Linked DNA regions of Homo sapiens: region 2 is linked to region 1. Evidence: fine-mapped expression QTL. A gene starts in region 1. The other region holds a variant in brackets. All regions are shown on one strand. Distances are between the middles of the regions. Region 1 holds the start of PTTG2 (pituitary tumor-transforming 2). Region 2 has its middle 7.9 kb from the start of TBC1D1.

Region 1 (12,109 bases):
GCTTGAGTCTAGGAGTTTGAGACCAGCCTGGGCAACATAGTGAGACCTTGTCTCTATTTAAAAAATAAAAAATAAATATCTTCCCCCAAAATACATATAATCTGCTTCAAATAAACTTTTTTTTTTTTTTTGAAACAACGTCTCTGTCACTCAGGCTGGAGTACCGGTGTCGTGATCTAGGCTTACTGCAACATCTGCCTCCCAGGTTCAAGCCATCCTCCCACCTCAGCCTTCTGAGTAGCTGGAATGACAACCGGCTAATTTTTGTATTTTTTGTAGAGATGGGAGCGGGGGTTCTCCCTGTGTTGCCCAGGCTGGTCTCGAACTCCTGGACTTCAAGCGATCACCCATCTCAGCCTCCCAAAGTGTTGAGACTACAGGCATGAGCCACCACACCCGGCTTAATGAACTTCTAATACACTATGCCATTTAAAAATTTGTTTCATTCGTTGTCTGACTCTCTTTTCACTAGGATGTAAGTTTCCCGAGGGCAGGGGTTTTGGTTTGTTTTGCTCACAGATGTGTTGCCACAGACTAGACAGTACCTGGCCCCCAGTAGGTGCTCAATACATATTGAATGTGAAGTGAATAAACTTCCAGCAGACTATCCTCATTGTGCTTTAACACATTTAAAATGACCAAATGGCTTTTCCCTGTACTTCCATTCTGTGTCTTTTCCCCTTGACCTCATGTGATATGCTCAGGGACGCCAACTAATGTTAGTATTAACTTAAGAAAAGTGGAGTGTAGCCGGGCACAGTGGCTCACACCTCTAATCCCAGCACTTTGGGAGACCGAGATGGGCAGATCACTTGAGGTCAGGAGTTCAAGACCAGCCTGGCCAACACAGTGAAACCCCATGTCTACTAAAAATTAGCCAGGTGTGGTGGAGCACACCTGTAGTCCCAGTTACTTGGGAGGCTGAGGCACGAGAATCACTTGAACCCAGGAGGTGGAAGATGAAGTGAGCAGAGATCGCGCCACCGCACTCCAGCCTGGGCAACAGAGCAAGACTCCGTCTCAAAAGAAAAAAAAAAAAAAGAAGGGAGTGTAGAAATGAATTTCCCCCAAAGAAGCCACTGATGCATGCCACGGTGAAACTTAAAGAATTACTCCTATCCGGTCTTTGGGATTATCTGCACCATGGCCTCCCTCCCCTTACAGGAAGGATCAAGCTGACCACATAAACATTTAGACTCCCTACGTGAGATGGGAGAACATAAGCCCCTCATGAGTTTGTATAATACTCATGGCCACAGTTACACAATGTGGCAGACGTATCTCTTCCTTTCCAAAAGAAGGAAAGAGACAAATGTATGATACCTGATATGACACATGTTTTCATTCTTCACAATCATTAAAGTAATAAATAACACTACTTTTTAGAGACAAGGAATTTATCTGTTGACAGGAATATGTATTGCTGGGCACAGTGGCTCATGCCTGTAATCCTAACACTTTGGGAAGCCAAGGCAGGAGGATATCTTGAGCCCAGGAGTTCAAGACCAGCCTGAGCAACACAGCAGGACCCCTCTCTACAAAACATAAAAAGATTACCTGGGCATGGGGGTGCGTGCCTGTAGTCCTAGGTACTCAGGAGGCTGAGGCAGGAGGATTGCCTGAGCCTAAGAGTTCGAGGCTACAGTGAGCTATGATCACAGCCTCAGCAACAGAGCAAGGTCCTATCTCTTAAAATAATAAAAATAAAAACAAATAAATAAATAATATAGAAAGAGAAGAGAGTTGAGATTCCAAAACAGTCTTTCTGACTCCAAACTCCATTTTTATCCTACACCACTTTTTCATAAAAGTTCAGAACAGATTGTTTGATGTTTTTCTTATTGCTCATTATTACTTTTTAAAAGGTCAATTCTGACATGTGATTTACATTTCCTGACAAACTACATATCATTTTCCTCCCTCCCTTCTGTCTTTCCTTCCTTTTATTCTTCCATTTATAATGCAACAGATGATAGTTTTTCATGGTGTCCTGTAGGTAGTGTATTTTATTTTAAAATACCAGATAAAATTATCAGCAGCCACTTGTGGAAAGCTTCACTGGAAAATATTACTTCAACCATACTTATATGTTTTTTAAAATGCTATTTTTGTTGATCTCTGCTTAGAACAACAGAAACACAGATGGCTACAGTTACTGGATTTGCTGCCAGTTTTTATGCCCCTTTTCTCATATACGTTTATGGCGACCAAGTTTACTTTCAAAAACATATGCTAAGAATAGTAACACATTTTTCAGATTTGAAGTTGTCTAGGAAAAAAGTATGCTTCATATTAAGAAAGAGTCTGTAAGATCAACAAAGCAGATTCATCTCCTAGAAAACCCATTCTCTGAGCAGGCCATTTTCATCTCTAACCAATAAACACCAGATTCCTTAGCTTGGCAATCAAGAACCTTGACCATATCTGGTCCCAGATGATTCTTCATATTTTTTATTTTTGTTCCAAGATGGTGTACTCTATTTTCCAGCAAAATGGGACAGTTAATTTTTCCTCGTAGCCATGCTTTCCTCTGTTTTGTTCATTGTTGTTTCTTTTGCCTGGGGAGATTTCCTCTTCTTTTACTTAAGCATTCCGTCTCTCCTAGCTCCTTCTCTTACTTAAGCATTCCATCTCTCCTAGCTCAAATGCCACCTCCTCCAGAAAGTGTTCCTGGATTAGATTTGCTTTCACACCTCTAGACCTCCTTTATTTGTCCCTTCTTTAGGACACATATATGACATCTTTTACTTTAATTATTTCTGCCCCAATTCAGAGTACTATTAGAAGGCTGTTAATAAAAAATGAATGTGTCGGAAGAGTTGAAAGAAGTTGTTTAATAATAATTCCTGCTAATGGTATAATGAGACAGGATTACAGACAGGTGGCCTGCAAACTTTATTGTAAAAGTTGCCTACCATAGTGTTTGAAGAAAAACAATTCAATTGGAATGCCTGCAGATTGGCACACACACTCTACCCCACCAGTCTCCCCGTTCCCCATTGTCTTCCACTGGCACATCATATATTTACATTCCCTCACTGACTCTGGGTGGCACTTGAATTTACAAGCTCCATATAGAGGTTACATCAATCAGTTGATATACCAGGTCCAAGTCATGGCTCTGTCACTTTCTAGCTAGCTGTGTCAGGTTAAGAGCAAGACTTCTAATGATACCTTTGAATGGCCCTTTGTATTTGAGGTGGCCTTATGCAAATAAACAGGCACAGTTGACCCTTGAACAATGTGAGGGTTAGGGGCGCCAATCACCTGCATAGTCGAAAATCCACCTATAACCTTTGACTCCCAAAAAGCTTAACCGATAGTCTTCCGTTGACCTCACCAATAACACAGTCGACTAACATATATTTCGTATGTTTTATGCACTATATCCTGTATTCTCACAATAAAGTAAGCTGAAGAAAATGTTATTAAGAAAAATCATAAGGAAGAGAACATATTGCATTATTCATTAAGTAGAAATAGATCATCATACAGGTCTTCACCCTCATTGTCTTCACGTTGAATAGGCTGAGGAGGAGGAGGAAGAGGAGGGGTTGGTCTTGCAGTCTCAGAGGTGGCAGCCGCAGAAGAAAATCTGAGAACAAGTGGATCCATGCGACTCAATCCTGTATTGTTCAAGACTCAACTGTATATTTTTGCATATGGGCTCAAATACGTACGCACATATGTCACTGGGTCAAAGATTCATAGAATGAATTAGACAACAAGAATATTTATCATTGAATTGAAATGGCTCACTGCAAAAGTGCCCTCAACTTATCTCTAGGCCTTAGAAACAGAAGTGACCCTTTGCTGCTGTGAATCAATAGCCTGGACTAGATTGGGGTTGGGTTGGCAAAGGTATATAGTCATTGCCATAGTCCAGTATTCCTGCCCAAGCAAGCACCATTAGTAGTCACGTTGCTCAGAGAGGGCCTCTCGGCTCTCCCCACCACTGCATGCTGGATTGTCTGCCACCAGTAGATCAGAGTTGGCAAAAGGGATAACTCGGGATGAAACATTTGAGCATTTTGCAGTTTAGAGAAACTTCAGGGGTGCTGCTTTAGTAAAAAATGGAAGACTTGCATTTATTAAAGGTTAGTAAGAAGTGAAATAATGTATGCAAAAGTACATTATAAATTAGAAAATGCAATAACGGCAGAAACTATTTATTTATTGGTTGCTCTGCCCTTTACCTAAGTGGTTTTTGACCATTTAACAATGTGTAAGAGTTGGGTTTTACCTCCATTTTATGGATGTGGAAATAGGGCTTGGATGTTAGCTAACTTGCCCAAATCTTACAGCTAACAGAAAGTGGTACTCCCGAGATTCCTACCCAGGTTTGTCTGACCTCAGGCCTGTGCTCTTTATATGAGTTCATGCTAACTCTCAGATGATGTGCTAGGCACAAAAATTAGATATTACACCAATTTCCACTATAGTTAACATTCTATCTAAATATAAAGTGGGACCACGGTCTTAGATGAATGTGGCTGTTGAGAGCGGCAATAATCCAGAATGGCTACTCTGATCTACGTTGATAAGGAAATTGGAGAACCAGGCACCCGTGTGGCTGCCAAGGATGTGCTGAAGCTGGAGTCTAGACCTTCAATCAAAGCATTAGATGGGATATCTCAAGTTTTAACACGACGTTTTGGCAAAACATACGATGCTCCATCAGCCTTACCTAAAGCTACCAGAAAGGCTTTGGGCACTGTCAACAGAGCTACAGAAAAGTCAGTAAAGACCAATGGACCCAGAAAACAAAAACAGCCAAGCTTTTCTGCCAAAAAGATGACCGAGAAGACTGTTAAAACAAAAAGTTCTGTTCCTGCCTCAGATGACGCCTATCCAGAAATAGAAAAATTCTTTCCCTTCAATCTTCTAGACTTTGAGAGTTTTGACCTGCCTGAAGAGCGCCAGATTGCACACCTCCCCTTGAGTGGAGTGCCTCTCATGATCCTTGATGAGGAGGGAGAGCTTGAAAAGCTGTTTCAGCTGGGCCCCCCTTCACCTGTGAAAATGCCCTCTCCACCATGGGAATGCAATCTGTTTGCAGTCTCCTTCAAGCATTCTGTCGACCCTGGATGTTGAATTGCCAGCTGTTTGCTATGACATAGATATTTAAATTTCTTAGTGCTTTGGAGTTTGTGTGTACTTGTATTAATAAAGCATTATTTGTTTAACAACATAATAAATACATAAATATAAAGTGGGTCATATTCCTCTTTATGTGCATCTGTCTCAGCTGTCCCTTGTTTCTATATTTCTTCCATACTACAGCCCGTACTCTTTGGGGATATGTCAACATGATTTACTTCTGTAGAGAAACAGGAGACAGGAAATAGCAAAGGATAAAGGAGAAAAGGCCAGGGCCAGGCCAAGAACTTCTACATCTTTTCTTCCCAGCCTAGTGTGAACCAGATGAAAGCCTTAAGGAGGTCCTAGCAGCAAAGGGAGATAATTAAAAGAATGAGAATTTTGTGGAATGCTAAAAAAAAATAGGGAACATATTTGCAGCTAGGACTAACACTGATTATCTTAAAATGTCTATATGGCTAAATAATGTTCATGAAATCCCGTATCTTATTCTGCTAATGTCTTACAACTTAAAGCACTTTTATGTCCATGCCTTGAATTCTGTACAAAGCTTTGATAGAGTCACAGATGTCTGGTGTCAATCCAGATCACCTGAGAGGCTTCAGGGTTTCCTCTCTGGTTCCTGAATTCCAAGACTTAGTGAGTTTCCTAGGCCAGGAGCTGCTATTCATTATACATGTTAGTGGTTTTGCTCTTTCTACTGAAAGTGAGTGGTGGTTATGTCTCTGAACATGTTATTCCACAAAAAGCCAACTAGATGTGGCTATTTAAGAACCATCAAAGGCCATGACAGGCCAAAGTTTCCAAATCCCTCTTCAATCAAAGGATGCTGTCAGAACTGACCTCCAAAAAAGATGCAAGGTCTCAGTCCTAGGCTGTCATACTGGTCCTTAGAGAAGAGTTACAATTTTGTGATCTGCTCCACTCCATTTTGATTTTTGCTTCCATGCTATTTTAAAACTGGAGAAGGTTTAAGTTTAAAAATTCAAGACAAATCATAAAATATTTGAGAATTTACTTGTACATTGCCTGTCTTCCCAAATAAACTGTGGGCCCCATGAGGGCAGGGACCATCTCTGTTTTGTTCACTATGGTGTCCAAGTACTTCCCCCATATCTTGGAGCTGATTCTGTGGTGGGCTGCTCCAAGTAATCTTTATCTTGGGCCAGTAGCCACGCAGGTCAAGGATAAGTTTCCATTAGGTGTGGGCATAAGCTCCTACCCAGCCATTGTCCTCTTCACCAGAAGAACTAAATTTCATCTGTAAAGGAAGACATCACATTCTGTAAATGGTAGGGCCTCATTCTCCTGTAAGATTCATATTTCTGCATTTTGGATTCAAGAACCATAGGTGTATCCCATGGCAAGACAGGAAGTATTACTGGAGTCAGACTCCCTGGGTCTTAACCCTGCTTCCTCTGTTTAATGGATATGCAACCTTGGGCAAGCCGGTAACATCTAAAATTTTACTCTTATAGCTGTTGATAGAGACACTAAACGTTTAAATTTCTAAATGTTTACTGCCATATTTATGTATGGTTATTAGCATAGTAAGGATCTAAATGATATCAGAGTAGAAACTCAATAAATATTTGTTAGATGGATGAATAATTAACCTCTCAGACTTCAGTTTCATCACCTGTAAATAAAGAGGTTTAGCTATATGGTATCTTTGCAGTTCTAATATCCTGTGGACTTAGTTATGTTAGTAGTTATGATATTTTTTATTCTTGGTAATTTTTTCAGGATTACTATAAGGATAATAAGAAGTCAAATTCTAAACTGAAATAAGTCAAGGGAATTGAATAAAAACTTGGATAAAAAAAGAAAGTGTTTTAAAAATCACCCTAAGTCCAATGATCAGCTGGCCTTTGATTTAAAGTGTGTCTGTGGTCAGCCCACGGAAATAGTATACAGCTTCTCTGAAGCTCTTTAACATCTTCATTACAGTCAGTTTAAGTACTTCTTTGGCAATAAACATCAACTTTTTTTCAGATGTCTCTTTGCATATGATGGCCTTGGCATGAGACATGAAACCATTAAGAAAATACAAGCCAGGTCCTCTGCTACAGTCCATAAAAATCATTTAGTTGAAGCTATGCATATTTACTTATTAGCTTACACTCATTTTTAAACTGACTCACAAAAAGTACAGTATTAGGCCATTCTTGCATCGCTATAAAGAAATACCTGAGACTGGGTAATTTATAAAGAAAAGAGGTTTAATTGGCTCACAGTTCTGCAGGCTGTACAGGAGGCATGGCAGTGGCATCTGCTCAGCTTCTGGGGAGGCCTCACAAAGCTTCCAGTCATGGCGGAAGGCCAAGGAGGGAGCAGGCCTCTCACATGGCAGAGCAAGAGCAAGAAAGAGTTGAGGTGGGGGGTGAGGGAGGGGGGAGGTCCAGGTGGGCGGACCACTGGAGGCCAGGAGTTCGAAACCAGCCTGGCCAACATGGTAAAACCCCATCTCTACTAAAAATACAAAAATTAGCCGGGCATGGTGGCACATGCCTGTAACCCCAGCTACTCACTGAGGAGGCTGAGGCACAAGAATCGCTTCAGCCCAGGAGGTGAAGGTTGCGGTGAGCCGAGATCACGCCACTGCACTCCAGCTTGGGTGACACAGTGAGATTCCGTGTCAAAAAAATACCCATTTATGTACTTACGTACAAAATATCTGAAACTGCTAAGACTGGGTAGTAATTACATGGGTGTCTCTTATATTATGCTATTTAAATGTTTTAAAAACATTTAATAATTTTTAAGATCCTAAGAAACAAGAATACTGTAATAAAAAAATCCAATATCGGACTCTACTCCCTTGTAGATTAGGAATGATATCCCTGCTCTTTTTCCCCCCAATGGCTCATTTGTACTTGGCATTTGGTGCCTGCTTAAAACACCAGGGTGACTACAGGGTCCCTGATGTTGGTTAGGGGCCCTCTCTGTAGCTTTCATAGCACCCTCTCTTTTCCTTCTCACTGCATTTATCACCCAGTTGTGCCATTTCCTGTTTCCTTGCTGTATGGGCCTGCTGGACCATAAGACGTTCCTGCAGGGGCAGGTGGCTTGCTTACTATAGCATCCCTGAGGACTGGAATGCAATAGATATTGAGTGGCTGAATGAATTACTGCAATGGTGACTGCAATGGCTTAAGTTCAGTGCTCTGCACACACATGGGCCAGGGTTGGATATGCGAAATTACCACTTGATGAAATTAGTTAAAGCAGCATTTGTTGGCACAGAGAGGCCGTGTGCCCCTTTCTTGGAGTCCCCTAGGCTTCAGTGCATGCACCACAGTCTCACAGTTGGAAAGGAGGGTCGGGGCGCTGTACTTCATGTAAGGTGATTCTAAACCTCGTGCTAGATCCACTGACACATCCAACTCGAGACTCAGGATCCAACTGGACACTCAGGTTCCCATTAGGCTGTGGCGAGGACCAAGCCCGCTGCCACTGAATTTCCTAGGCACTGAGGTCAGGGTTTTCCTGTCCACTAGCCTGACCAGTTTTTCACAGAAAGGACCAATGTGCCTGCCTTCCCGAGATCCGGCAGCACAGCTCCTGCTTTGTCCTGGGTTCAGATGGAGTTTGGCCTGTTGGTCCCAGCGTAGCCTGGATGGGGACAAGGGGCAGCCTACTGCGGGTCTCACTTTCTTATTAGCCCCTGGCCTGGCTGAACCCTTGAGAAGGGCCCTGCTGCCTCAGACCCAACAAGAATTTGCTTCCTTTCTCTCTTCCTTCCTTCCTACCTCATTCGTTCATTTGTTCTTTAGAATCTGCTGCCATTTCATGTCTATTTGTATCTCATCTAGCTAGCATCAGCTCTGTCCCCAGCCTCATGAAAAAGGCCAAGCTCCTTCCCTGACAGAGCCTGCTATTGGCAGGAAGCTGCCAGAGCATGGTGTCTGTCTAGAGAACCTCTCTTGGCCATGCCAGCTCCCTGAAATCTTAGAGCATGAAGCCCTGTGTTTGTAGCAGTTAGGACCTGCTTGGAGGGATGCTGACAGGTGGTCTACGCAGACACTGCTCCACTGTGCCTAGGTGAGGCCTTTGGTGAATTATTTTACTTTCCTGAACCTCAGTTTCCTCATCTGCAAAACAGAATAAGTAATACCTTGCAGCAGGGTTTTAACATAATTAGGGGCTGTGAAGTAAAGTGGTTAAGTTGGCAGAGTGCCTGGGCCTGATTCTGGTTTTCTCCTTTCCCACCTGAGTGCTTCAGTTTCCCCATCCAAAAATAGGTACTCATACTCTCGACCTCATGCGCTGTAAATGCTTTGAACCATGCCTGGTGCATGGTGGATGCTGCCTGAAGGTTTGCTGGTTTTAGCAGTGTCTGGCAGATAGGAAGCACTCAATACACATTATGTTTTATTACTATTACAATTATTCTTACCATCTAGGGTTGGGAGATAGATAATATATGAAAACATCTGGCATGCAGTAAGTACTCAGCGGATATTGTTTTCATCCTTCCTGACCCTTGATCTTGGAGCAGGGGTACCTTGAAGTGGAGGGAGGTGATCCCTGCACTGAGTTGGCATTCTTTTTTATACTTGTGTTGTCCCTGAGAACAAGAACTCTAGATATTTGGAAAAGTTCCAGGAGCATCGGGGCTCTTGTGATATTATGACCTAGAGATCGGTGAGCAGATATGTTTAGTTCTACCTTGACCCTGAGCGAAGGCTGCCAGGTGCAAACCTGTCATGGACATTTATTTATTTATTTATTTATTTTATTTATTTATCTGAGATGGAGTCTCACTCTGTCACCAAGGCTGGAGTACAGTGGCACAATTTCGGCTCACTACAACCTCCACCTCCCAGATTCAAGCGATTCTCCTGCCTCAGCCTCCCGAGTAGCTGGTATTACAGGTGCCACCATGCCCAGCTAATTTTTGTATTTTTAGTAGAGATGGGCTTTTACCATGTTGGCCAGGCTGGTCTTGAACTCCTGACCTCGAGTGATTCACCTACTTCACCCTCTGAAAGTGCTGGGATTACAGGTGTGAGCCATCGCCCCTGGCCATGGGCATTTAATTTAGCGTATATTTCACAACATGCCTGAGGGAAGCTTGGAAGGGACCTTGGAGATCGTGGGCCTAATACCCACAATTTACAAGGTGGAAACAGGTTCAGAGAATGTGACATGAACTGTCTGAGGTCACATAGCTGGTTGCCAGCAGGTATAGGCTAGCAGCAAGCACCTGGACAGCCTGGGCTGCCTCACACAGAGAAAGACTCCACAAATCCATGTGCAAATTGATTGACCCACTTTAGATGACTCCTGACCCTCATCTGAAAGCTGAATTTATCTTCACCTCACCCAGAGCAAAACTTCTGTCCTGTTTGGAAAATTCCAGGTTAGAAGAGCAATGACTCAGACATCACTACTTAGAAGCGTTTAAAAAACTGAGTGGGATCCCCACACAAATGGAAAAGAGAAGCTAAACTATTTCCTTCTTATATTTTCTCAGCCCTTACATCTCCTATCAAGGCCAATGGACATTTTCAATTATGTACCTTCTCTAGCTACGCATAGAGACTAAGATGCAGATGGTGGTTTATTTTATAATCTATGAGTTTCTTTGCTAAGTATACAGACACCTTTTATCTTTTTTTAATTATTATACTTTAAGTTCTAGGATACATGTACGAAACGTGCAGGTTTGATACATAGGGTTTGCTGCACCCATCAACTCATCATTTACATTAGCTATTTCTCCTAATGCTATCCCTCCTCCAGCCCCCTACCCCCCAACAGGCCCCGGTGTGTGATGTTCCCTGCCCTGGAGACACCTTTTATCTAAAGGTTTTCAGAGGGGCATTTGCCTAGGAATTCGGCACTTGGGTCTTATATTCTGGAAGATGAGCTTGCTCAGTGCACCTGAAGATTACACTGAGTTTTACCAGGCACATTCTTCTTGTTGACATGCAAGTACCTGTGGCTTGGTGGACTTTTTGTAGGAATCTTAAGTTACAACAAAGGAAAAAATTCAAATTGTTTTGTGCATTTCTGCAGAGGTTTGTGGCACCATTTTTTTTTCCAGGTGCTTGCTGTGCAATTCGAATCCAAAATTCAGTGCTGAAGCACATAAATTTAGGCTTTGAAAAGAGTGAGGACATTCACAAAGAGCTTCATTTGTGTTTAAAACTTGGCAATTTTAAAGGAATTTTATTAAGATAAAAAAGAGGGCCGGGCACAGTGGCTCACATCTGTAATCCCTGCACTTTGGGAGGGCGAGGCGGGTGGATCACCTGGGGTCAGGAGTTCAAGACCAGCCTGGGCAACATGGTGAAACCCCGTCTCTACTAAAAATACAAAAATTAGCTGGGCGCAGTGGCGTGTGCCTGTAATCCCAGTTACTTGGGAGGCTGAGGCAGGAGAATCGCTTGAGCCTGGGAGGCGGAGGTTGCAGTGAGCCGAGACTGCGCCATTGCACTCCAGCCTGGGTGACAGAGTGAGACTCTGTCTCAAAAAAAAAAAAAAGATAAAAAAGAGAAATTATTTTAGAAGTGGGAAATTATCCTAAATGAAGGTAAACTAAACCACCTTATAAAAAACAGAAAATTTTGATTTACTATAGAAGAAGTGGAAAGAGGAAGTTTGGGTCAGATTTTTATTCACTAATAGATTTGATCAGGAAATAGGAGTTGATTCTTTTCAGTCTTATTTTTGAAGGAGAAATATAACTTTCAGTTTAGAAAAAAAAGTTATTTCTTGATAAAATTAGTGCTCTGTCGAGTGATGCTTCTAATGTTTCCACTATGAATTATAGCAAAATGTCTGAGTTTAAAGCTAAGAGTCTATGTTGAGTTACAGGATGGGGTGTGGGTGTCGAAATCTTGACTCTAAATTTTTACAGTGTTTTCTTTTATGAGCTCAGGACTGCTGGGTTTTTCCATGAATTTGAAACAAGCGCACAGTGTTTTGAAAAGAAGATTATTTGCTTAAACTTTATAGACTGAGCTAAAAATAGAAAAACACCGATTCTATTTTTGGAATG
Region 2 (12,109 bases), 79 kb before region 1:
ACAAAAAGCCCAAGCCATAAAGCAAAAGACAGAGCCACATTAGAATTTAAAACTTCTGTACAGCAAGACCATATAAACATTTAAAAGACAATTGACAATCTGGGAGAAGATATTTATAACTTTTCTAACTAACACAGTTACTGGTGTGTTTTTACGTAGCTTTTATTAGCTTAGGATTCTGGCACTAATTTGTAAGCATAAATCACATGTTTTGCCTCTGTGTGACACAGGCTTGGAGTTTTTATTTCTGATCATGAACTCTCCCCAGCTTGGCCCACTCAATCCCTACCCAGAGTCTCAAGCAAAGTACAAGCTTCTCTGATCCTGTATCAGGGAATCCGAGATCCCTTTTTCATAAAGTAGGCAGTCCTCTCAGGTTTCTGGCACTCTAAGGGAAAGAACAGGACACCATGAATAACAACAGGCCACTTGAAAGAGAATCCAGGCCGGGTGCAGTGGCTCACGCCTGTAATCCCAGCACTTTGGGAGGCTGAGGCAGGCGGATCACTAGGTCAGGAGATCAAGACCATCCTGGCTAACACGGTGAAACCCTGTCTCTACTTAAAATACAAAAAATTAGCCGGGGGTGGTGGCAGGCGCCTGTAGTCCCAGCTACTCGGGAGGCTGAGGCAGGAGAATGGTGTGAACCTGGGAGGCGGAGCTTGCAGTGAGCCAAGATTGCACCACTGCACTCCAGCCTGGGCGACAGAGTGAGACTCCGTCTCAAAAAAAAAAAAAAAAAAAAGAGAGAGAATCCAATAGTAATTTTCAATTGAAAAATAACAATAACTGAGTTAGTTTGAACTCCCTGCCTTTTAGCAGCCCTGGGGCCAGTTTCCAGTCAGGTGTGAATGTTAAACCCCTAGTCCTAGAGGCCACACTTAGTCTCATACATTCTCCAAGGCCGTGGGCACTTCAGCTGCTGCTTTTTGCTCTTCCTCTTAGTTCACACTATTTTAAAAAGTTTTTTTTTCAGACAGGGTCTCACTCTGTCACTCAGGCTGGAGTGCAGTGGCGCTATCATGGCTCACTGCAGCCTTGACCTCCCGGGCTCAAGCCATCCTCTCACCTCAGCCTCCCAAGTAGCTGGGACTACAGGCATGCACCACCATGCTTGGCTAATGTTTTGAATTTTTTGTAGAGACAGGGTTTCACCATGTTGGCCAGGCAGGTCTTAAACTCCTGGGCTCAAGAGATCTACCCGTCCCAGCTTCCCAGAGTGCTGGGATTGCAGGTGTGAGCCACTGCGCCTGGCTAGTTCACACTAGTTTAAGCACCTAGGAAACATCTCTCTCTTTCTTTGGGGGTATAACTGTGCCTCTTAAACATTTTGTTGGCTGGGCACGGTGGCTCAACGCCTGTAATCCTAGCAATTTGGGAGCCCGAGGTGGGTGGATCACTAGAGGTCAAGAGTTTGAGACCAGCCTGGCCAACATGGTGAAACCCCGTCTCTACTAAGAATACAAAAATTAGCCGAGCTTGGTGGCGGGCACCTGTAATCCCAGCTGCACAGGAGGCTGAGACAGGAGAATTGCTTGAACCCGGGAGGCGAAGGTTGAAGTGAGCTGAGATCACGCCACTGCACTCCAGCCTGGGCGACAGAGCAAGACTCCATCTCGAAAAAAGAAAAAAAAATTGTTATATTTTATCCTGCATTATATCCATTTGACTTGTGAGTCTTCTCCACACCTGCTAGAACTGCCCAACCCTGACTGTGCTTGCCTGTGTACCTATTAGCTCCCTACAACATCTCATCGTGGGAGGGGAAACAGGGTTTGAAAGACTTCTTACATTGTTAAATTTTAACTTTAAAAATGTTACTCAGTTTGGATAAGCTTTCCCTGCCCTCCCTGGCAAAATGTTGACCATTTAAAGGAGGAAGAATGTTCCAAACTTTTCCTTAAAGCAATCATTGTAGTGTTTCTGCAGCAGCACAACCGCTGAATTCCTGAAGTCTTAATTTTCCAAAGATTGAAGGGTGTTTTGTTTTGTTGTGAGATGGAGTTTTGCTCTTGTTGCCCAGGCTGGAGTGCAATGCTCGATCTTGGCAATGCTCGATCTTGGCTCACTGCAACCTCCGCCGCCCAGGTTCAAGCAATTCTCCTGCCTCAACCTCCTGAGTAGCTGGGATTACAGGCATGCACCACCACACCCAGCTAATTTTTGTATTTTTAGTACAGACAGGGTTTCACCATGTTGGTCAGACTGGTCTGGAACTCCTGACCTCAGGTGATCCACCCTTCTCGGCCTCCCAAAGTGCTGGGATTATAGGCGTGAGCCACCGCGCCCAGCCAAGATTGAAGTTATTTGAATTTTTACCTGAAAGAAAACATCCTCTTGGGTTAGCTTCCTGTTCCCCACTACAGAAAGAGGAAGAGAAGAGAAGGCTACATGAAAGAGCTGATAGCATCCAGAGAAGGAAGAACAAGAGAGAATTACATCACTGAATAATGACAATGAGCATGATGTGCTATACTGCATGCCAGGTTCTGTTCCAAGTGTTTTACATTTACTAACTCATTAACCCTATCAACAACATAAGATAAGTACTATTATTTTTATTCCCGTCATCTTAAAGAGGGGACACATAGGCCGGGCGCGGTGACTCACGCCTCATCCCAGCACTTTGGGAGGCCGAGGCGGGCGGATCACAAGGTCAGGAGATCCAGACCACCCTGGCTAATACGGTGAAAGCCCATCTCTACTAAAAATACAAAAAATTAGCCGGGCGTGGTGGCGGGCGCCTGTGGTCCCAGCTACTCTGGAGGCTGAGGCAGGAGAATGGTGTGAACCCGGGAGGCGGAGCTTGCAGTGAGCCGAGGTCACGCCACTGCACTCCAGCCTGGGCGACAGAGCCAGACTCCGTCTCAAAAAAAAAAAAAAAAAAGCGGGGGGACACAGACACATAGACACACCAGAGTTCAGTGAAAATAACTTGTTCAAGTTCACATAGCCAGGAAGTGGTCTGAGACCATCCGATGCTGGTCAGTGAGACAGGTATGAGTTCTTCCTTTCAAGAAATGTTCAAATTTAAAGAGGCTTTAGCCTCTTGTGATTCCAGAACATTAAGGAGGGATTATGCACAGATTTATGGAGTCTTGTCACTGATTTCTCATGGGTGCTTAACCTAAGATCAAAGGTTCTCTGATGGTTCTGTGCATACACTCCAAGGGGTCAGTGAACTTGGGTGGAAAATAAAAATACATTTTTTAAGTTACTTCTAGCAGTTCTAATCACAATTTACATTTCTCTGCCTTTAAAAATTTAGGTGACAAACCATAATAGTATTATCACTCCCCATGACATTGTCATCAATAGAAATCATTGATTTTCATGTCACATTTCAGTTGTAACAAGTATCTCAGAATATCATATATTTTTATCACTCTCAAAATCATGGTAGTTATTATACCTGTGGGCAAATCTTGTTATTTAATACATTAATAATGATGTCCATATATTACAATATTATGCTTTTAAAAGTATATGTTGATGTCTGTATTTCCATATAATTGGTTACTTAAAGGAGAATTTTATATAATTGGCTATATAATTGGTTACTTAAAGGAGAACTTCTCTTAAAGGAGAATGTCATCCTACATTTTATATTTAGCAACAAAAGAATGAGAAGAAGGCTGAATGTCTGTACCCAGCCTTCCATATAATTTGTAGCCAATTACATGGAAATACAGATATCAACATATATTTTTAAAAGCATGATATCATAACATATGAACTTCATTATTAATGTATTTTATTTATTTTATTTTAGGCATTTACAAATATTATTCTGAGGAAGGTTCCATAGGCTTCATTACACAGGCAAAGGGATCTATACTATAAAAATAGTTAAAAACCTTTGCCCTAGAGCAGGGTTAGCAAATTATGTCCTGCTCGCCAAATCCGGCTACTTGTTTTTGTATGACCCATGAGCTAAGAATGGATTTTACATTTTTAAATGGTTGGAAAAATTTTTTTAAAGAATATTTCGTGACAATGTGAAAATGCATGAAATCCAAATTTCAGCGTCCATACTCACTAGAACACAGCCATACTCATTTGTCTGCATAGCGTTTGTGGCTGCTTTTGCACTGCAACAGACTTTTTTTTTTTTTTTTTTTCTTGAGACGGAGTCTCACCCTGTCGCCCAGGCTGGAGTGCAGTGGCGCAATCTCGGCTCACTGCAACCTCTGCCTCCCGGATTCAAGCAATTCTTCTGCCTCAGCCTCTTGAGTAGCTGGGACTACAGGCATGCGCCACCATGCCCGGCTAATTTTTGTATTTTTAGTAGACACGGGGTTTCGCCATATTGGCCAGGCTGGTCTCAAACTCCTGACCTCGTGATCCGCCCACCGTGGCCTCCCAAAGTGCTGGGATTACAGGTGTGAGCCACTGTTCCCGGCCACTGCTACAGATTTGAAAGGTGGGACAGAGATGGAATGTCCTGCAATGCCTAAAATATTTACTAAATGGGCTTTTAGTAGTTTGTCAACCCTGAATTAGAAGAGAGTAAGGATGCTGAAGACAAGGAAGCTGTCTCATATTTCTTTGCATCACTTCAGTGCCTAGTTCAGAGCCATGGAAAGAATAGCTCATCTATGCATCTCTACTGGTTGAAAGACTACTAACCCCTTTGCGGTAACTACCTGCCACTTTGGAAATCTTGGTAAATTCTACCTCCCCCTTAATGATTTCTCTAAGCTTCCTATCCAAGGACCCACACTCTTTTGAGTAAAGGAGAACTTCATCCTACATTTCATATTTACCAACAAGAAAATGAGAAGGCTGAATGTCTCTAGCTCAGCTTTAATGTTAAAAGAAATTACAAAGTAATGAAGCAACCTCCCACTATAATGCTGTGGCACAATATGAATTATTATGCAATAGAAAAGTGAGCAAAAAGAGACTGCCCCGGAGCACGTTTCTTCAATGTGTGCTGATCAAGGAAACCTTGGTTCTGTGGATGCTCCCGAGAAGTTAAAGGGTCAGAGAGCCCCAGCTGAAGCGCAGCCCAACCAGGAACACCTCGCAATAAGGAATGTTATTCTGAAAGCCAAGGAAATAACCAGACTCTCATTTCCCCCACACAAATCAAAACACCTCCAAACATGATCACCCTCAAAAACATTAGTTTGAAAGGCAGTAATATGGTATAGACAAAAAGAATTAGGCTTGCTGACAGAATATCCAGGTTAAAACCCCAATTTCTCCCCCACAGGTTTTCTGCCTTAGGACAACTCCAACTCTCTATAATGAGGGAGAGAAATAACGTTTACCTCTGAGGGCTGCTGAGAGGGTTAAATAATATGAGATCTGTAAATTACAACACACTGTACACACTATACAGGTAGCATACAAGGTGGTAATGAGTGAGAACATTTGATGTAGTGTGGAGCTGCAGGCGAGTTGGTATGTTCTCTGCCTGTACAAGTCTGTTTATTCATTCATTCATTCACTCACTCACTCATATTTCTACCACATCCCAGGAATGATTGAAGATGGCTTAAATGTATTCACTTTTTTTGTAAACAAAAAATGATTCAAAGTGAATTAAGAAAACAGGACGAAAGGAGAGGGTAGTAGGTGAGATAGAATGATGCTAGGAATTAGGTAGAAACCACTGCTCCTAGACTTTGGATTTTCTGAACCAGTAACATTTCTCCAAACACTAGGAATTGACAAGGGGGCGCTATAATGTTCTTTTGCCAAGTAAAGACATTATAAAACAAGCACAAAGCAATGGATCTCACCATATGGTTCTCACCGTAATTTCATAAAAGAAATACTTATTTGTTAGTACCTATAAGGTAGGAAGAACATGATCTCAGAAGACAGAGAAGTTCAGTTTGCTTTTATGAAGTTACACATTGTTATTTATAGTTTGTCTTGGATAGATGAAAAGTGGCACAAACTGGCAATGGCTTGGAAAGGGCATTTGTGAATCACTGACTTAGCACACAAAATGTCCTGGATGCCTGCCAAGCAGTGAACCCCAAACGGTCAGTGCAAGGATGGAGATAAAATCAGTTGCTCAAGGAAAGAAAAGTTTTTCTTAGTGGAGTCCTAGGAGAAACTTTTTCTTGGATTCTCTTTAAAAGGACACTGTGTAAGGTATTAATAAACACCCTCAATAATATCTTCAGACTGAATAGAGTATTTTTATAAAATGCATTCCCCCACTATGGACCAATGGAATAATATCAAAGTGAAACTCAGTAAAAAAAA[A/T]TTTTCTGGATACACTCCAGGCAAATGGATCTTCACTTGGGTTGATCTGATAAGGAACTGATTTTAGGGGATCCAGATTTTAGAGGACCAGTTGAACTGCATTATCTTTCATGCTGGTCTCCAAGGTCATATTTTTCTCAACCAAACTTCTAACAAACTTTGACTGCTGATGAGTTCTCAGTTGTTCCTGATTCTAAAGTCCTTCTATAGTATATCTGAAATTAGAGTCTATGTTGATGGTTAAAGAAGGAGTCACATGCTTCAACATTTAGCTCACCTTGGGGGGAACTATTGACATACCTCTTAGGACAGTTGAGAAATCTAATGAGCTGTCAACAAGAGGAAAACCTAGAAATTCTAATCTAATGGATAGTACTTCTATAGATAGTACTTCTAATCTAATAGATAGTATTTCTATTAGATTGGAATTTCTAGGCAAGAGGAAAACATAGAAATTCTAATCTAATAGATAGTACTTCTATTAGATTCTATTCTAATCTAATAGATAGTACTTCTATTAGATTCTATTCTAATCTAATAGATAGTACTTCTATTAGATTCTATTCTAATCTAATAGATAGTACTTCTATTAGATTCTATTCTAATCTAATAGATAGTACTTCTATTAGATTCTATTCTAATCTAATAGATAGTACTTCTATTAGATTCTATTCTAATCTAATAGATAGTACTTCTATTAGATTCTATTCTAATCTAATAGATAGTACTTCTATTAGATTCTATTCTAATCTAATAGATAGTACTTCTATTAGATTCTATTCTAATCTAATAGATAGTACTTCTATTAGATTCTATTCTAATCTAATAGATAGTACTTCTATTAGATTCTATTCTAATCTAATAGATAGTACTTCTATAGATAGTACTTCTAATCTAATAGATAGTATTTCTATTAGATTGGAATTTCTAGGCAAGAGGAAAACATAGAAATTCTAATCTAATAGATAGCGCTTCTATTAGATTCTATTCTAATCTAATAGTACTTCTATTAGATTCTATTCTAATCTAATAGATAGTACTTCTATAGATAGTACTTCTAATCTAATAGTATTTCTATTAGATTAGAATTTCTAAGCAAGAGGAAAACCTAGAAATTCTAATCTAATAGATAGTACTTCTATTAGATTAGAATTTCTAGGTTTTCCTCTCTTTCTATATAAAGACATGTATTGAACTCAAAAATGTTATATATTACAAATTATTTTTTTCATTCATTCATTCACTCAGCACATATTCATTGGATGCCTACTATGTGTTGGGCTCCATGCTGTGAGTTGAAGATACAGCAGCAAATAAAACAGACAAAATTCTCTGCTCCCATGGAAGGCGGAGGGGGAAACAAATGACAAATAAGATATACAAGTAACCAATATAGTACATTAGAAGGTAAATGCTATGGAGAAATATAAAGCAGGAAAAGGGATAAGGTGTGTGTGTGTGTGTGTGTGTGTGTGTGTGTGTGTGTGTAGGCGTAGCTGTGGTTTCCATTTTCAAAAACTTGGTCAGCAAGGCCTCATGGAGAAGGTGACATTTAAACAAAGTGAAGTAAGTGAGGGGCCAATGTGAATATCTGAGGGAAGAGTACACTTAGCAAAGGGAAGAGTAAATGCAAAGGCCCTGGGGCAGGAGTGTGCCTGGCAGCTCTGCATAACTGCAAGGCCAGTGTGGCTGGAGCAGAGTGAGTCAAGGCTGGTAGCAGGTGATAAAGGACAGAGGTAGTGGTGTGGCAGTTGAGAAAGAAGATCCTGTAGGACCCTCTAAACCATTATAAGGACTTTGACTTTTACTCCAGGGAATCTGGAAAGCCATGGGAGGATTCCAAGCCAAGCAGTGACATGGCCCAAATGATATTTTAGCAGATTCAAGTGGCTGCTATGTTAAGAATAGACTGCAGGGTGGTGAGGGCCGAATCAGGGAAACCAGTTAGCAGCTCCTGCATTCTAGGTGAGATTACACATTAGGTACCACCAATGGCATTTGGGGTAAAATGAAGTGGGGTTGCTGCAGGGTAGAGAGCTTAGTCAGCTTACCCAGTCTGAGTAAAATCATCGACATCCATAACTAGCTCTGACAATTTACAAAAAAATTCTCATTGACCTTAGACAAATTTAGATATCATAATTTAAAAATGACGTGCCATCTAACATTTGCCAAACTTTGTACTTGGTGCCCAGACCCACGGAACCAGCTCGGGTGGAAAGTGAGAACCCCAAGTAAAGGCTGGACATCGTCAGAGAGCTGCGTGGAGCAGTTGCTTGTGTAGAGCAATGACAAATAGGAGAGGTTGCTGGAAAAGGAAGTGGAACCAGTGCCCAGAGTTTTATCTGCTTTGTCCATAAAAGGAGATTAGATACTTCACAGAAGCCTACTCTGGGGCTTAAGTATACAGTCCACCCATTCTCTCACTGCATTGATTTACCGTTGTCTCTTGCATTGTAAGCGTGAGTTCTTCGTGCAGTAAAATTTTTGTTTATTTCAATTGCTGAAATTCTAAAATCTATGTTGGCTATCTGCTCATTTTAATTTTTTGCATCATATTTTATTAATCTTATGCCTTTCGGAAAGCAATTTCAGGGATCTAGTATTGCAGACAATTGGATGTAATATAGTCTCTGACTTTGATTTTCATTTTCTTGTCATGAAGAATATTTCTTATAGTTAATTAAGATATTTGGGAACTGGGCGCAGTGGCTCACGTCTGTAATCCCAGCGCTCTGGGAGGCCGATGTGGGTGGATTGCTTGAGTTTAGGAGTTTGAGACCAGTCTAGGCAACACAGCGAAATCCTGTGTCTACAAAACACTTAAAAATTAGCTGGGTGTGGTGGTGTGCGCCTGTAGTCCCAGCTACTCAGAACACTGAGCAGAGGATAGCTTGAGCCCAAGAGGTCGAGGCTGCAGTGAGCCACGAAGGCACCACGGCACCCCAGCGTGGGCAACAGAGCCAGACCCTGTCTCAGAAAACAAAACCAAAGGAAAGAAAGAAAGAATTAGGAAGAAAGCTAGGAAGGAAGGAAGGAAAAAGAAAGAGGAAGACAAAGAAAGAGAAAGAGAAAGAGAAAAAGAAAGAAAGAAAAGAAAGAAAACAAGATATTTGGGCATAACTTAACAGACTCTATGTTATTATTATTATTATTTAGAGACAGTTTCTCACTCCAACACCCAGATTGGAGTGTGGTGGTGTCATCACAGCTTGCTGCAGCCTCAACCTCCAGGGCTCAAACCATCCTCCCACCTCAGCCTCCTGGGTAGCTTGAACTACAGGTGTGCAACACCACGCCCAGCTAAGTTTTTTTTTTTTGTATTTTTTTATAGAGGTTTTGTCATGTTGCCTAGGCTCATCTCCAACTCCTGGGCTCAAGTGATCAGCCCACCTCAACCTCCCAAAGTGCTGGGATTATAGGATAAGCCACCACCCCAGCCTTCACAAACTCTTTAGATCTAACTGTTATGCCTTGGATTGACAGGGTTGGCAAATTACCTGGCGCTGGTGTTGCAATGCTGCCTCCTCCCATGCTTGAGGCAGGTGCTGCTTCTCAATCTTGCACCCTTTCCCACTGAGCATGGACTTGCCTTACAAGCCTCGTCCACTCAGGGCTCCAGAAAGTCACTATCAATCAATGGGAACAAGCATACCCAGTGAACCACCTTACTATCCTAGGGTTCTAGCCAGTATAGTCTTATTTTTTGCCTTTATTGATGCCATTTTTTGGAAATGGACCCACTACCTTATTATGCACATTTTGAATTTAAGTAAAAATATATAATAGCAATAGTTTGGATTCCTAACTAATATGAGCATTTAAATACCTAACTGATGGATTTAATGATGATTAATTTTGTTAAAGGTCTTCTTTCTACATCAACGAAAGATTTTAATTCTAGATGTATATATGGTTCCCATGGTTCCCTTAACTTTTTAAAAGTAAAGTGGCCTCTGTTTTCTTTCAGGCTCTGAGCTTTTCATGTGATTTAATAGCATCGATGGTTCACAATTTTCTAGAGCTCTGCAGCCATCTTAAAGCTGATATTAATGTTCCTGGCTTTTGGCAATGAATAACTAATTATGCTGCAAATAGCTAAATTAGGAAAGAGTCTATGGGAGAAGCCCTAAAAGAATGATCCATGGCAGGATTTTGGGAAGAGCTGGAGGTGCGGAAGTTGTCCAGACAGGAAAAGTGCAGCAGCCATGATGGTCGGTGCCTTCGCATCAGGGTTTTCACTCGCTGAGCCAATGGGTCCATAGCTGATGTCAGCTAAATGCCCATGGTGGTGAAGAGCTCCACACTCCTTGTGTTCCTGGGTCATACTCCGTCAGAAGAATCAGAAGCTGAAGCAGAATCATTGGAGCATTTGGCCCTATTCTCTGCTTGCTTTTGTTATCGGTGACTTAAAGAGGGACCAACAGAACACCTTCCTGGGCCTTGAGGGAGCTCTCTGTTGCCATCACCAAGGCCCCATTGGCCCACGCTTCTACCATGGTGTGTACCAGCTCTCCTGGGAGTCACGTGGCCACATATCAAGGGGAAGGAGCTACTTCCCTCCTAGAGCAATGGCACCTGCAGGTAAGAGCTGAGTGGTGAGCTCTTACTTCTGCACTCTGCACTGGGCCAGTATGGATCTCCCCAACCACATTTGACAGTCTTCATCCTGCCATACCAGGTATCACCATCTGCTTCAAAGTCCCCTTTACTATTTGTTCTACAACTGCTAGAAAACCTAAGGCCAAATAGATTGATAGCAAGCTGTCCCCTAATTTCTAAGATAATGCTGTATAGATTTTAAAAAGAATTTCAACAATCCTTATTGCATACTATAGAGGGAGTTCTGTTTCCCAGAAGTTGAAAGTATGGTAAAATCCCTCCTCATCATTCTTAGGGTGCTAGCTGTCCTGGGAGCTGGAAAAGTGATGCAGAAATTGCTGCTTCTCACAAGGCCATGACCTCTCCCTAACCTAGGTAAGGGTCAAGGCAAATGGTCATTTGCCACTAAATTATAAATCTCTGAGCTGGAACTTGCTGGATGTCAATGCTTTGAGAGATATGAGGCCTGGGCCTGCATCTGGGCCCCACCCATCGACTTCCTACATCTGTATTCTGGTTAGGCACCCCGCCTGGCTGCCTACCTGTACTTAAGCCTTCCTGTACTCTGGGACTAGGGGTAAGGGTGAAGAGAGGGTAGAGGAGGTGAGCAAGTGAGGGAAAGAAAAGGTAGTGGAGTGGCAGGATGGGAGGGGGCTCTAGCCAGGATGTTCTGTAAGCAGAGCCCAGCAAATTATCTCTGTTCCCCTTGGCCTGACCCCTTTTCCCAGGAGCAGGGCCTGGCAAGCAGGGTTGTTAGGTAACAGTTTCAACCATCCTCTGGTGGGTTACATACAAAAAGCAGTTTACAGTGTCAATGAAATGAATGCTAGTGTACCTTTCTCGACCTCCTAGCACTCTGGAGGTAAATGTGTGCAGCAGGTCACTGCAGACAGGGAGAGAGAGTTCTACAACAGAGTTGAAGGTAAAAACATGAAATAATTTGGGATATGACCCAAGTGATAACAATATGGTTTAACTGGTTTACCTGGTCTTGTAACCTAAAGAATAATTTCCATAACCCAGTTAACATTCTACTCATTACAGTATTTATGACTGTATATTTCTTAAAAAAGAGTTGAGGCTATGCACACAAATAACTACTCAATGACAAAGAATGAGCTGAGGGCTACACAGTGGCCAGAGAGCAAGTATATTATAAAGGGCTTTGGATCTTGGAGATTCCAGCACCCACTAACCCTGTAGGCACTAACCTCTTACTTTTCTCCTTAGTCAAATGGATTTAACAATCTTTGCCCTGCAGAGTTTTTGAGCAAATTAGCAA

The links.
Region 2: its variant is fine-mapped to the expression of PTTG2 in whole blood (TOPMed, PIP 0.96).

Annotation. Positions count from the first base shown.
Region 1 is chr4:37,955,917-37,968,025 of GRCh38, forward strand. It overlaps PTTG2 (pituitary tumor-transforming 2), which reads left to right and starts at 4,482. Exons shown (of 1, transcript NM_006607.3): 1 at 4,482-5,212. The coding sequence starts at 4,519. The coding sequence ends at 5,094. All of the region lies in intron 2 of TBC1D1 (TBC1 domain family member 1), which reads left to right.
Region 2 is chr4:37,877,160-37,889,268 of GRCh38, forward strand. No RefSeq gene overlaps it. Among named protein-coding and RNA genes, the nearest start is that of TBC1D1, 7.9 kb to the right of the region's middle. RefSeq lists an enhancer at 4,129-4,629. The variant A/T (reference allele first, on the strand shown) is at 6,226.